Homo sapiens: one gene and its partner. The protein of the gene in region 2 interacts with the protein of the main gene of each other region in a pairwise test. Each region holds a gene or a part of one and is shown on either strand. Other genes may lie near its edges.

Region 1 (6,923 bases), on a different chromosome or scaffold from region 2:
TTATCCAAATATTTACTGAGTGCCTACTAAGTGCCAGGCACTGTTCTGGTCCTTGGGATACATCAGAAATAGAACAAAGATTGTGGCCCTTGTGGAGCCCATAGTCTAAACAGGGGTGACAATGAAAATAAACATAAGAAATAGACAAATTATGTAGTATGTTAGAAGCTGATGGGTGCTATGAAAGAGATGATGTTTAGAGTTACAGGTTACACTGTGATAAAAGAAACACTTCAGCCAAATTAAATTTAAAGTTTAATTGAGCACAAAACAATTCGTGAATCAGGCAGCCTTCTGAGCCAAGGTAGGCTCAGAGACTCCCGCGCAGCCACACGGTGGGAGATTTATGGACAGCAAAAGGAAAGTGACATACAGAAAATGGAAGTGAGGTACAGAAACAACTGGGTTGGTTGCAGCTCAGCGTTTGCTTTATTAGAACACAGTTCAAACAGTTGGCTACATTTGATTGGCCAAAACTCAGGGATTGACACAGGTGTGGGCTATGGCCTGTTTACACCTTCATTTGTTATAGCTCATGATGTACAGAAAAACCTTTAGGCTGAACTTAAAATATGCAAGGAGGCAGCTTTAGGCTAAACTTGATTTAACAACTGTGTCAACTCTCACCAATGCCACCCACCTCCCCACACCCCCCAAGAAGGGACAGAGAACATACATGTTTTTTAATACTATTGTTTTAGGGAACATTTGTGAGATGAGGTCCATTCATGTGTGGGGTCCAGGGCAGAGGCCCCTCTTGCCTAGTTTAAGGGCAGTATTAAGGGTAGACCTCATTGAGAGGTGAAATTTGAGCAAAGACGTGGAGGAGATAAAGGAGTTAACAACTGCAGCCATGTGGAGAAAACAAATTTCAAGCAGAGGGGCCGGCCAGTCAGTGCAAAGCCCTTAAAGCAGGACTGTATCTGGCATGTTTGGTAAACAGTAAAGAAGCAGGTATGTAGGTAGTGATGGGAGAGTAGAAAGAGACGAAGTTTTGAGGAGCCAGATGGTGTTAGAGCTCTGTAGGCCAATTGTAAGGACTTTGGCTTTTATCTGAGAGAAGCGGAGAGCCAATGCAGATTTTTGAGCAGAGATGTGACATGATTTGATTTATATATCCATTTAGTCACAAATAATTTTTAAAGGTGTTTTGGAGAATAATTAAATGTGAAATTATGCACATTTACGTTGACTGTGTTGTTTTAAGCTGGGATGTTACAATCTCATTGAAGATTATAATTCTGGAGTCAAATTAGCTGAAGACTTTCCTGCTTAAAAAGTTTTCCAGCATGTGATACATGCGTAAGTAGAGCTTTTTTAATTATTATTTTTTTTTTTGAGACGGAGTCTCGCTCTTTCACCCGGGCCAGACTGTAGTGGCGCTATCTCAGCTCACTGCAAGCTCCGCCTCCCGGGTTCACGCTATTCTCCTGCCTCAGCCTCTCGATTAGCTGAGACTACAGGCGTCCGCCACCGCGCCCGGCTAATTTTTTGTATTTTTAGTAGAGACGGGGTTTCACCGTGTTAGCCAGGATGGTCTCCATCTCCTGACCTCGTGATCTGCCCGCCTCGGCCTCCCAAAGTGCTGGGATTACAGGCGTGAGCCACTGCGCCCGGCCAAGTAGAGCTTTCTTCTATATACCTATTACTTTACTTTTTTCTTCTTTTTCATGTTCTTCACTACACATTTTGTGTGTGTTCCTAGGAAATCTTTTAAACTAAGTTTTATTTGATATGTATATTTAGTATCGATGTTCTAAGATACTATTGAATAAAATACATACTGCAGTAGCTTAGTTAAAATACTGGAACCGAGGCCAGGAGCGGTGTCTCATGCCTGTAATCCCAGCACTTTGGGAGGTAGAGGTGGGTGGATCACCTGAGGTCAGGAGTTCGAGACCAGCCTGACCAACATGATGAAACTCTGTCTCTACTAAAAATACAAAATTAGCCGGGCATGGTAGCACATTCCTGTAATCCCAGCTACTTGGGAGGCTGAGGCAGGAGAATCACTTGAACCCGGGAGGCGGAGGTTGCAGTGAGCCGAGACTGTGCCACTGCACTCCAGTCAGGGAAAAAGAGTGAAGCTGCATCTTGAAAATAAAATAAAATAAAAAACACTGGTACCGAAAAAAATAATAGTCACAAATGGCATTACTTTGTGCCTTTTACAAACAAATAATACTTTGAGGGCCAATTGTATACCATTATCATCTAAAGTCTGTCTCATTTTCTTTGCTTTAATGAAATCATGATAATCTATTATTTTCTACTCAAGGTTAACAGAAACTGGCTTGTTACTTAATATTTCTTTGACTTCTTTTGTCCATTAAAAAAGGGGGGTGTTTTTAAGATTAGTGGGTGAAAGTTGATGTATAAATAAGAGTAGACACAGCTTTAGGTAAAATGACGAAACAGGTTAAGTTTGGCTTCCTCTTTTTGTTTCAGTTCAGGCCCATGCACCTAGCACAATACTTAGCGCATTGTAGGTGCTCATTATATACTGCTTAAATGAGTGATAAGTTCCCTGAGACATTTATTTCCTGCACTTGTTAGGGTTCAGTGAGCCGATATCCGGCCACTGCCCTCCAGCCTGGGCGACAGAGCGAGAATCTGTCTCAAAAAAAAAAAGATAAAAAATAAAAATAAAAGACTACCTGCCAGAGGAAGTGGGCAATCTTCGCCTAAAGATATGAACTGCTAATGGTTAAACATCAGACGTCAGAGAAGACATATTTTAAAGTGGGGAATTTTCCCCAAGAGCACCCTCTAAACCACATCAGTGGGCAACTTAACGCACTTTGCTTGTCATTGGGTTAGATGGGAGTTTGAGGAATTGGGAGTAACATTTGGTATATAGGCTTGGGACATAATATCCTGAATTATTTCTATTTCATAATTCCTGTGCAAAAAATTATGGGAGTTGTTGATTCTACAGCAATTCCTGTCAATTTGTAGATTATCTGCTTATTAATAGTTTGTATTGTTTGGCAGAACTTGAAAACTACCGAACGATTACAGTTCAGGCTTTTTCCCAGTACCTCTGGCGTTGCTGTCTCAGTGACTAGGAGGTGAGGAGGGTGGCCCTTGAAATGCCAAACTGCCTACCGCAGCAGTCTGCCAGCAGCGTGCTGGGCCCAGAGCCGGGGATGCAGCCAAAACATCCTGGATTTTACCTACAGCTCCCACCCTCTGGAGGGACTGGTCTATTAGGGCATATGACACTGACAGTGCGCACTGTATACAAACCGTGTTTGAACAGGAGTCGGTTGGAAAATACACCACTGCACTGAATTACTTCTGCAGTGGCTTTGCAAAGCTCTTTTTGTTTCTTGAAAGAAGCCGACGGTAACCATTACAATATGGCTTTTTCCAGGTCCCAGAGGAAGGCTAGGGGTGCCTTGTGGGTAACCCTTTCTCCCTCTCCTGACTCCTTCCCGTTATTTCTTCTATCTTCATCCTCTAGACCTACACAATGGGACAGGTTGACAGTCTGTGTTGAATGGAAGAGGCGGACGATGCGCTTGTGTTTGGTGCTTCTCAAACGGTGCTCGCACTCCCCAGGGTCTGACGCAGCCCACTACGCAGAGCCCTGGGAGGAGGTGCGGACCCAGGGTACGACCCCCGACCGCTGAGAAACCCAGACCGGGCCCCGGCTGCAGCCCCGCGGGTCGGCCCGCCCCCCTGCCTTCCCTATTGGCTCGGCAGTTCCACGCGTCACGCCTGCGACGCCGGCGCTGCCCTCCCAGAGGAGGCGGGGCTTACACGCGCGAGGCGGAGCCAAGGGCGCACGCGCAGACGAGCGGGTCTGGGTCCGGACGAGGGGAGGGAGGGGGTGGTGTTCTCGGTTTCCTGGGTTACCTGGGCGGGCGGGGGTGGGGAGTGCGCGGCGGCGGCGGCAGCGGCGTCGGCTCGGGGTTCTCCGGGAGAGGGGGAGTGCGCGGCGGCCGCAGCTGCCACAAACCAGGTAAAGGCGGCCGCCGGGCGCCGACGCTGCCGGCAGAAGGTTCCGGGTCCCGGCCCCTCTGCGTGGCCTGGAGGGGAGGCGGTTTGGGGCTGGTGGCTGTCAGCCTGGGTTGAGGGCCGGGACCGCCGGGCTGAGGGCGCGAGGGCGCGAGGGCACTCGGCCTGACGCGCCAGCTCGGGGCGTCCTCTCTGGCTTCTGGGCTCTGGGACTTCTCGCGGCGCCGGGCCGCCTTTGACAGCCGCCGGGCCGCGGGCGGGAGCTCGGCTGGGCCCCTCTGGGCCATTGCAGCGGCCACTGGGCACTAACTTTATTTCGCAGCGCGCGGGGGGCGAGGTCGAGCAGGCTGACGGCGGTGTGTTGCTACCTTTATTTTATTTTTTGATCCTGTGCCGCTGCACTACTCAGCCCAGCTGGGCCCAAGCTGTCAGGTTGACGATGGGAGTTGACGGTTTCCGCGCCACCACCCAGCCGGTCACTCCCCGCGCTGTTGCCCTGCGGCGCTCGCCCACCTGTCACCTACACCGTGCGCCTCGGTCCGCTCTTTCCTCCTGTCCGTGACACCCTTTGACTGGGCGAGAGCCTCTCTTTCCAGGGGATCCCCTGAGACATCTGCCGTCTGTCTCCGGTATCACTGGAGCCTGACTGAGATGCCCCTTCGCTTCTGATGAGTTAAATAAGCTGGGAAATTACCCGAGAAGACCCCGGTACCACAGTGTAAAGCCCAACGAAGGGGTTGTTTAATGGTCCAGGGGATACAGAGGCTTTAAGAAACGTTTCCTTAACGCTAATTCTTATCTGGTTAAACAAAACATAGCAAAACATCCCCGATCCGCTCGGCAGACCATACACACCCAGCGACGGCACTTGATAGTTAATGGGGTTTGTTTTAAGCAGATAGAAAATTTTAAGGGAGTCGAATCTTGTGTTGAATGCGTTCGTGTTGAATTTGGGCCAGTGTTTCCTTGAAGATCAAATGCAGGTTGCATTTTCCTATTGTTTGTTTAACAGATTGATAGGACAAACTGAATTAGACTTTTCTTCCTGATGATTCTTGGCTCTTCTGCGCTATTATTTTAAAATTCCACGCCTAGATTCATCTATGCTAATAAAGATGTTGACTTTAAGCTTTCAATTTATAGATGTAGTTGATTAATATGGGGTATCTGTTTTAAAGAGCTTTGTTAAGTGGCCAACAACTCTTTTTCTGATAGCTCTTTGCTGTCATCCATATTGTTACTACAAAGATTGGAGAATTTGAAGAAGAGAGGGCATAAGGAAAAATGAATTGCTGTAATTTGCATAAAAATACTTCACAAACTATATAATTATATATATGTATTTAGTAAATATTTATTGAGCACCTACTGCGTGTCAGATACTTTTCTAAGAAAACATAAATATCTGCTCCTTCATGGAGCTTATATTCTAGTGGGGACCTCAGATAATAAACAAATAAAATATGTGCTGTGTCAGATGGTGTTAAGTACTACAGAGAAAAAGCACGGAAGAGGGAGGGCAGGGAAGAGGGAGGGCAGGGAACCGGGAGAGGTTTGCAATTTTAACTAGAGGCAGCCAGGGAAAGCTTCCTAGAAAAGATATCATTTGAGCCAAGACCAGAAGTAAGTGAGGGGTAATCCATGTACCTCTCTGAGGGAAGGATGTGCTAGCAGAGAGGAAGGCAGAAGGGCTTGCAGAAGCCCTGTGTGCTGGGCTTGTTTGAGGACAGCAGAGAGGCTGATTTGGCTGTGGTGGAAAAAGCAAAGAGGAGTAGAAATAAAGTCAAAGAGGTGAGTGTGGTGGGAGATTAGACTGTATAAGGCCTTGTAGGCCCTTTTAAGGACTTGAGTTTCTACTCTCAGTGGAAAGGGGAGTCCACTCTTTGAGTAAAGAACCTTACCTTTTATTTTTAGTTTTGAGTCAGGATCTCACTTTGTCTCCCAGGCTGGAGTGCAGTGGCATGATCACAACCTACTGCAGCCTCGACTTCCCAGGCTCAGGTGATCCTCTCACCTCAGCCTCTGAAGTAATTGGGACTTCAGGCACACATCACCCACCATGCTTGGCTAATTTTTTGTAAAGATGGGGTTTCGCCATTGTTGCCCAGGCTGGTCTCAAACTCCTGGGCTCAAGCGATCCATCCACCTTGGCGTGTCAACATTCTGCGATTGTAGGCGTGAGCCACTGCGCTCGGCCCCAGGCTTGCCTTTTAAAAATGATCATTCTGGGCGCTGGATGGAGAATAGACTTTGTTGTAGGGGAAGGGTTGAGCAGGAGCAGAAGCTGGGATACCAATCCGGAACTGTTGCCCTAATCCAGGCCAGAGATAATGTAGCTTGGACCAGAGTGGAATTGGTGGAGGTGGTGAGAGGTCATTGATTTCAGGATAAATTGAGGGTAGAGATGTAAAAGACACCAAAATTTAGTTCCGAACAAGTAGAAAGATGGGGTACTTGTTTACTGAGATTAGGTTTACGAGAGGAGTAGGTTTGGTGGGGAGAAGGGTGGGAGTTGGTTAGAAGACAATAAAATTAGACATTCACGTTTTTAAAGAAAAAAATATTCAATGATACTTGTTTAAGAATGGTAAGTAAGGCTTTATTCAGAACCATCTCAATAGGTATAGAGACCTCTGCAGTGGGGCCCTGCAGTAGGGGAGGGAGACTGGGCTCAACTCCGAATACAGCATGAGAAAATGGGAATTTATAGCCAAGCAGCAGTGTGGGGATCGTGGATGGAAAATTGCTAAAAGGAAACATCAGGGATAAGGGGGATTCTGGCTAAGCCGACCTAACGGGATTCTTGCTGAAGACAGGCCAGGGCGATCAGACATTACCTGGGGAATGGTGGAGGATGAGGAACCTGATCAGATATTTAGGATGATTAGATATCCAGGATGTTATGCTAAACAGACTTAGCAGGGTTCTTTGCTAATACTGGATTTTACAAGGAAGTGCAC
Region 2 (7,817 bases):
CGCTATCCTACTTCAACTCGGAAAGTTCTTCTTTCCAAGTGACTAGGAAGAGGTTTGTCCTGGTACTTCGCTCAGCGTTACTTTCAAGAAAGCCGGGGTCTCGGGCAAGTCTCGCCGGCGCGAGCCTGGTCCACCGTTACCCTGACACCCGCGCACGCCCGTGGCGTTTCTTTTTTCACTGTCGACACTTGGATCTTTCAGGCCCTGGGTCTAGGTTTCCCCCAGAAAAATGAGGGGCCCATGTGACGGAAACCACCAGACACACTGTGTGGAGACACATGCCAATGATTCACCTCGTTCCCGAACTAAAACTTCTGCGCTTTAGGAAAAAAGCAAGCGTTCCAATCTGCGAGGCCCTCCCCCACCCCGTCCCTTCCCAGGAGAAGAAAGAAAGGGCTTTGTGTGTGCGGTGAGGGCTCCGTTCATCGAGTTCAAAAATGCACAGCGGCCGGGGGCCGGGAGGCGTGGGGCGCCGGGCCCTGCCCACCCCTTTTCCCCGGGCCGGCGGCGAGTCGGGAAGCTGGTGCGGGAACCGGGGCCACGGGGCGCCGCGGCCCGGCAGCCAGGAGGAAGAGGATGCTGCGCCGCCGGGGACCAGAGGGCGGGGCCGGGCCGCGCGGACCTCGGCGGGACCCAGCGGGCCCGGGCGGGCGCACCAGCCGCCCTTTGTCCTCCGCCTCCGGGTCGCGGGGGCCGCGGCCGCCTCCAGCGCTGGCCCCCTGGCCCTCGCCCCGGTTCCCCGTCCTGCCCGCGCGCCCCTCCTCCGGCCCTCGCGCTCCGCCGCCCGCCCTCCCCGCTCTCCGCCTCGGAGCGCCGGACCTCGCGGCTCCCCTCGGCCGCCCGCCCCCGATTTCCTCGGAAGGAGGCTCGCGAAGGTGGAGGAGGCGGCCGAGGAGGAGGAGGAGGCCGCCACGTGACTCTCCTCGCCACATTCCAACACAGCCATCAGATCGATAACTTCAGGGACCCCCGCCCCCGCCGCAGCCAGCTAGTGCGCCCCCAAAATCCCGCACGCACGCCCCGCAACTTCCCTCTCCAACAGGGACGACGGAGAGCTGGACCCCACCGCGAAACGCAAAGGACTCCAGGGGCGGCGGGGAGAAGTAGGGGCGAGGGGCGGTCAACTTCTGGGAATGGCCAAGAGGGGTGCTCTGAGGCCCGAGCCGGGGTCCGGTGCCCGCGGCCGGCGGCCGGGGTCTGTTTACTCCGGCGACGTGCGGAGAGGACCCAAGCAGGACGCGGGCGGGCGGGAGGCGGCGGCCGGGACCCCGGGCCACGTTTGTCACGAGCGGGGGCTGCTCCCCACCTCCGAGATGACTTTTTTCTTCTTCCAAAGAAAAGGAAAAAAGAAGCACCGCACGGTTTTGCATATTTATTCTTTGCGAAAACACACAACAGAAACTTTTTCCTCCAGCCCAGATGTAGATCTCAGACGGGATATTTTTTTTTCCTCCCTCTCCGGATAATTTCGTTTCTTTCTCTCTCTCTCTCTTTTTTTTTTTCGGTTGTTGTTGTCTTTTCTCGCCCACTTTCTACCGCCGCCCCATTCGGGGATCCTCCTCCCGTCTTCGTCTCCCCCCACCCCGACACCTCACCCTCACTCCACCTAGGGGCTCAGCGGGGAGGGGAGCGCGCGCGCCCCCGCACTCACACTCACACTCACGCGCGCACACGCCTCGCAGCCACGCAGCCCTCGCTCCGCTACCCACAGTGACACTCGCGGATGGGGGAAAGCGGGGAGCAGGGGGTTCCTCCTTACCTTTGAGGGATCTCGGTTTCGCTTGCTTGCGGCGAGACATCCTAAAAGCAAACAGCTGAAGTTGTTTCAATTCAGCCCTGAAAGAAACTATACTTCCTCGTGGCCGCGCGCCCCTCGGGCCGCGGCGCCTCGCGCCCTCCGCTCGGCCTCCCTCGCGCCCTCGCTCCGCGCTCCGCTCCTCGCTCCGGCTCCGGCTCGCGCTCGCGCGCGGGGCTCGCGGCTGCCCGAGCTCCGCGCTCTGCACGACGGCGGCGGCGGCGGCGGCGGCTGCTGCACCAAACTTTCCCAGCCTTCGACCCCCACCCCCAATCTCCAAGAAAAAAAAAAAAAAAGGAAAAAGAAAAAAGGAAAGGAGGGAAAAAAAGCTAAAAAAAAAACCCCAAAGACAATGTTTGAAGAGCCGTCAGCTACACTAAAAAGAGAAAATCCGTTACTATTTCCACCTCAATCAAAATTCACATAGTTCATGCGAATAGAAAAAAACTAATAAAAAGAAAAGCGTCTGGGTGATTTTTTTTTTCTTTACCGCTTTTCCTTTTCAACAAATCCGCCCCCCCCCCCACCGGAAAAAAACAAATAACACTGATTTGTTTACAAAGCGAGTCGTGCTCTTTTGTAGTTGGGGGGACGAGGGGGGGAAATCGACCCTGCAAGGCGATGAAAAGGTCTTGGAAAGAAAAATCTCCCACCATCCGAGGCAGATGCGAACGGGCCACGAAAATAAGCAAAGGGAAAAAAATACTTTTTTTCTCCCTTCCCCCCACCCTTTTTTTCTTAACCCACACTAAAGTAATTTCTTTCAAAAAGAAAAAGCCAAAGCACCCGAGCCGACGGCCCCCAGGTGGTGTGCGGGGCTGCTTGTGTGCAGGGGGTGTGCGGGGCCCGGGCTCGGGGCGCCCCTCTCTGGGCGGGGGCGCGGCGCCGGCGGCTGGCGCTGGACCGGGGCTCTAAAGTCTACGGCTGCCTCGGCAGCGGCGGCGGCAGCAGCGGCGGCAGCGGCGGCGGCAGCGGCGGCGAGAGCAGGAGGAGGAGGAGGAGGAGAGCCGGGAGCAGGAGGAGGAGAAGGAGTGTGCTGTGTGCTCCCTCCTCATCACAAACCTGCAAGGTCTTGGACTGCGCTGTCGCTCCGGTAGTCCACATAATAATGGAAAATGGAAGCAAGGCCCCCAAAGCCATCAGGATGGCTCCAGAGGGGGCCCCTAACCCGCAGGGACTCGCTCTGTACGTAATCACTGAGGAAATCATTGTCAGCCTGCCTGCACTCACACACAGACAGAGGGGCATGATTAAAAGGCGAGAGCGCGGGGAGCGGGAGGGAGGAGGGGGCCCGCCAAGACCCGGACTGGAGGCGCCGGCCGCGGCGCGCGGATCCGGAGCCAGGCGGCGGCCGAGCGCCCCGAGCCCCGCCCGCCGCCGCCGCCGCCGCCGCCGCCTCCCACGCGCCGCGCGCCCCGCCCGCTCCTGCGCCGCCGCCCCTCGCGCCGCCCGCCCGGCCGCTCGCACACCCCGCGCCGCCGCCGTCGCCGCCGCCGCAGCTGCGTTATTAGAGCTCCACGGCGGATCTCGGGGCTCTTCTGCTCGCTTTTTTTCCTCTTCAGAAATTAAAGCAGAGGAGCATCTGAAAGTGGAAAGGTCCCCCTTCTGGTAGGATGGATGTAAAAGGAGGCAACAATTTGTTCTTGAGGGGGCAAAAAAAAAAAAAAAAAAAAAGAAAAAGAAAAAGAAAAAGAAAGGAGGGGGGAAATTCATTGCTTGGCTTTTGCATTGTCGGACTTTAAAAAAGTGTGTCTGCTGTTGTTGCCCGGACTCGGGAAATCTTTTTTATGGCAACCGCAGACCTGCCAAGTCTCTCTTACTTGGAATCTTTATAAAGGCAAGTTATTTGGACTTTTTTTTTATTTTCTCGTTTAGAGAAAGTCATTGATGCTGACGAATGTCATAATGTGATTCAAAAGAGACAGCTTTGAGTTCACTTTTTTAACATTCTCAAATTGACATAGATCTTTGTCCAGAAAATAAAGCTTTCTGTTGATTTTTTCTTTAAGCAAGAGGTAAGGAAATATGCACTTAAGAATATGTGTACAAGAAAATAGTTTCTAAAATAAATTGAAATGTCTGCAGGTCGGTGGGAATTTTTGTTTCTTTTCGCAGTTTTGTTTTCTAACTTTTCACCTGCTCCCATCGCAAAACAAGAAACCATCACCTGTTTCCTTCTTTTACCTTATCTTAAGGGAAAGGATGTTTTAGTATTATTATTGTTGTTGCTATTTATTGATTGGACACGCTTGTCAAGTTATAAATGCCTGAGAGGGCTACCAAGTAGAGCTTAGATTCACAAGTCTTGGTGGAAATTAAGAGATTCAGAATACGGTTAATTACACAAAACAGGCAGAATTTTGTACAAATACTATTGTTCTTAATCAGATTTTAAAAATTCTCCGTTCTGTAAAATTAAGGTACAGCTATCTATTAAGCCACCATGCAAAGACATCAAAGCTTTAAGGAAGTTGTATTTTTTCCAGTCTAACCTGTAAACTGCCTGGACCCTCATGTGGATAGCTGCAAATACAGTATGTTTTTTTTCAATATCTTCATTATAATTAAATGAGTTTTCAATCCATCTGCAGTAATTCCTAAAGTGAAATCATAGTTGTAGTCAAATTTAACTTTGCATGACTGTGAAATAAAGCAACTTTTGTTGCAGAATCTGTGTTGGTACATTAAGGATTCTAGATTTTATACATAACCTTATACATTCATTTTCACAGAAATCATTCAGAAAGGGAAAAATGTGTAAACACCAAGTTTTTACAAGACTTTCCTTTCGTGTGGTAGCCATATGTGTGCAGAATACTATGGTGCCATGTATGTGTGGTCCCAAGTTATGTGTGATATTATCTAAAATATTGATGGCATCTAATCCTGGTTTTATTGGAAAGTGAAAAATTGCTAACGTAATACTAACGCGTACCCTAATTTGTTAAAGTTTTCTATATGGGTTGATTTTTTTTGTTTCTTTCTCAAAGTAGTCTACTTTGCTTTACTCTAAAATTGTTCTTTCATTTCCCAATGTTAGTATTTCTGTTGCCTTCCTCTATTAAGAGATAAATAAAACCCTTAGCTCAGAGATTTAGATCTGGCTCAAGAGCCTGATATTTCAGTTTGGGATAGTACTGCATAGCATTTTAAGGGAGGTTAAAGCACCAACCACCCAAAAGACAAACATAAAAACTATTTTAACCTAAATCTGTCAAATATTGACCTATACAGATAGGTAAAATGCTTTTGAAACGTATCTTTAAATACTTTAATTTCCTCCCCCCAAGTTACCAAGGGGGGGAAGATCATTGATTATGTTTCTAAACATAAACCCCAACATCCACCCATGAAGCCAAAGCCATCATCTCTGAGCAGAATGCAGCAACTTTGTGAATATTTGGATGCTGTTGTTGATGATGGGGTAATAATGCATAAAGAACCATGTGCAAGGAATTTTACTAAAGACAAGACAAATATTTTCTTAGGTCTCATTAAGGGGTCTTGAAGTCCAAGATAAAACATCACCCATTCTACCTTTTGGAGGGACAGATCTGGTAGGCAAAACTCCCACTGATTTCAGCATCCCTTACCACCGTATTCCATGTGAATTAATCAATTATGTGGAATTGGTGAGCACTTGGATTTCATTAAACACTGCTGAGTAGCCTCGCAATTACTTTCCATGCTTCGTATATAAACAGACACCAAAAATGTAAACTGTCCAATTCACCTGATAGAGGCTACACAGATGCTAAAGAAGGAAAACTAAGATTTGTCTTTCTTTGGACGATGCGAAAAAGCATAATTAGCCACTGCAGAAAGGTAAACATGCCTAACTGATAAACATTTTTTCATGCTTAACAAAATTCATTTTGGGAATAGTAAACTACTATATATTCAGTTATTTATCCCCCAACTTTTAAATGTATTATTCTCATTCTTAAAACTGGAAACCAGCTACAATGAGAACGTCATTCATTTTCATTCAACAGTTTTTTGAACATCATCATCCAACAAATTGTGCTGTCCTCCAAATAACCTATTTAACATCTCCTGAATAACCAGCAAAAACATATAAAGCTTATAAATTTTAGGTATTATTTACAAATAACCTGAATAGTAGTATAAAGTTTAAAATGAGACAGACCCTTCATTACCGAGTTCTATTAAGAACTTAAGTAGCTACATAATTAAACTTTCCATTTCGTATTAACATATGATTGATTTAACTTCTGGCTCTTTTCATGCATTGACTCCACAGCACCTACTTTTAAGATATTTTGCACTTTTCAGAATGTCTTGCATTGGTGAAACAAACAATATCTGGAACTGAGACTCTTACTTGAAAAAAAGATTAACGTTTTTTCAACTGTTAATTCCAACAATAAAGATATTGCTAAAGGAGGGATTAATGTTAAAGGAAACCTGTGTCCATGAAACTTGACCTCAAAGGAATTAATTACAGAAAACACATTAGGTACCAGTTCAAGTAAATCTCCAATTTTAAAATGTCAGTTGCAAAGCATAAATTGTCTTTGATAAGTTATAAGTAATAGTGTCAAAGTTGCAATCTGGCATCTAAACCAATTACAAAGAGAATACTCTGCTCATAATTTTATATAAATATCCTTAGCACATGTCTACTTATCTGTACAACAATTTCATGTAATATTTTAAGATTTTCAAGACCGATTTCGGATTTTTTTTAATATTGAAAGTTAGTTCAAATCTAGTGTATTACCTGCCTGAGTAATATGACTGTATCAGTCATATTACTCCACAGAAGCTTTCTTTTAAAGGAGGAGCATTTTTAACAAGAGTTAAATTAAAAGTCCTATGAAAGGGCAGTTTAATCAAAGTCCATCTGAATCTAATGTGTGTGTCTGTGTCTGTGTGTTTAAAATATAAAATATATGTGTGTGTTATATATGTATATACATCCACGTATATACATATTAACACATTATTGTTAGAACAACATATAAGGGACTTTTAAATTAACATTTGTGCAAAGTATTAGTGATGCATTTGGAAAGGCAATATTTTTAGTCCACAAAAACTATACTCAGTTCCCAGTTCCTTTAATTGTCCACCATCTAATTCTCAGTAAGTTACTTAATATCCATCCTGCATACTCATAACCACACTCTACCTCTTAATCTATGAAATGGGTAGCAATGTTTGAATGCAAAAGCATTTAAGAACGTCACATGGAAAAATCCACATTAAATATATAAATATGGCAAATGTATTTTGTCATTATGAATAACAAATTCTATTTTCAATCTTTTTTTAGTCTTATTTACTTGACTTCTTTTCTTTCATAAAATCTGAGTCATTAAACCCCTTTAAAAAAAATTCTGATACAGATGCGTTGAGGACTTTTCTACTTGGTGGTGGACTATATCCAAAAAGGTAAAGTTTTTTAAATGCACACTATACATTATTCATTTATTTTATAATACACGAATTCATTGAAATTTAAAGATTTAATTTCAACATGTATAGAAACGTTTAAAACTAGAGGTTTCACATTGTCATCTTTTCTTACTGAGGCTTTCATAACCACTGCAAAGGTCCTTATTGAGCCACTAAAACAATAAAAGAGAGAAAATATCCTTTCTTCACACAGAAATTGCGAAAAGAAAAGAGGGATCTTTCAGTAGAATAATATTTGCAAGCTACTTTTAAAGGTAACTGAAAGGTGAGGCATCATCTTAAGAAAAGAGATTGTAGCATATTAGAAAAACCAGATAGTACTGATTTGTGAATTCTAAAGAATTAAGGATATAGATAAGTGATCTACTAACAAAAAAAATGAACATGTACCCTTAAAAGAGACAATAAAGGAATAAAACAGTTGATAGAAATTGAATCTACCTTTTTAAGTATTGCTAATAGTATATATTTGTAGAACTTAACTGGCATATGCTAAAAATAATTACTGTCATCAGAAATACAAAATTTATAAATAATGAAATAAAGAGGAAATAGTTATATTTCCTAAAAAGGCAAATTA

What was found. The genes of interacting proteins can lie anywhere in the genome.
Region 1: the proteins of ZNF521 (region 2) and LYST interact in a two-hybrid assay, tested with the Homo sapiens proteins (one study listed by BioGRID).

The regions. Positions count from the first base shown.
Region 1 is NC_000001.11:235,863,887-235,870,809, reverse strand, and holds the start of LYST (lysosomal-trafficking regulator), read left to right. Parts: upstream 1-3,903; 5' UTR 3,904-3,967; exon of another isoform or gene 3,968-5,754; intron 5,755-6,923. UniProt on the Homo sapiens protein: Adapter protein that regulates and/or fission of intracellular vesicles such as lysosomes. Might regulate trafficking of effectors involved in exocytosis.
Region 2 is NC_000018.10:25,349,148-25,356,964, forward strand, and holds the start of ZNF521 (zinc finger protein 521), read right to left. Parts: upstream 3,020-7,817; 5' UTR 2,858-3,019; intron 1,801-2,857; 5' UTR 1,800-1,800; coding exon 1,760-1,799; intron 1-1,759. UniProt on the Homo sapiens protein: Transcription factor that can both act as an activator or a repressor depending on the context. Involved in BMP signaling and in the regulation of the immature compartment of the hematopoietic system.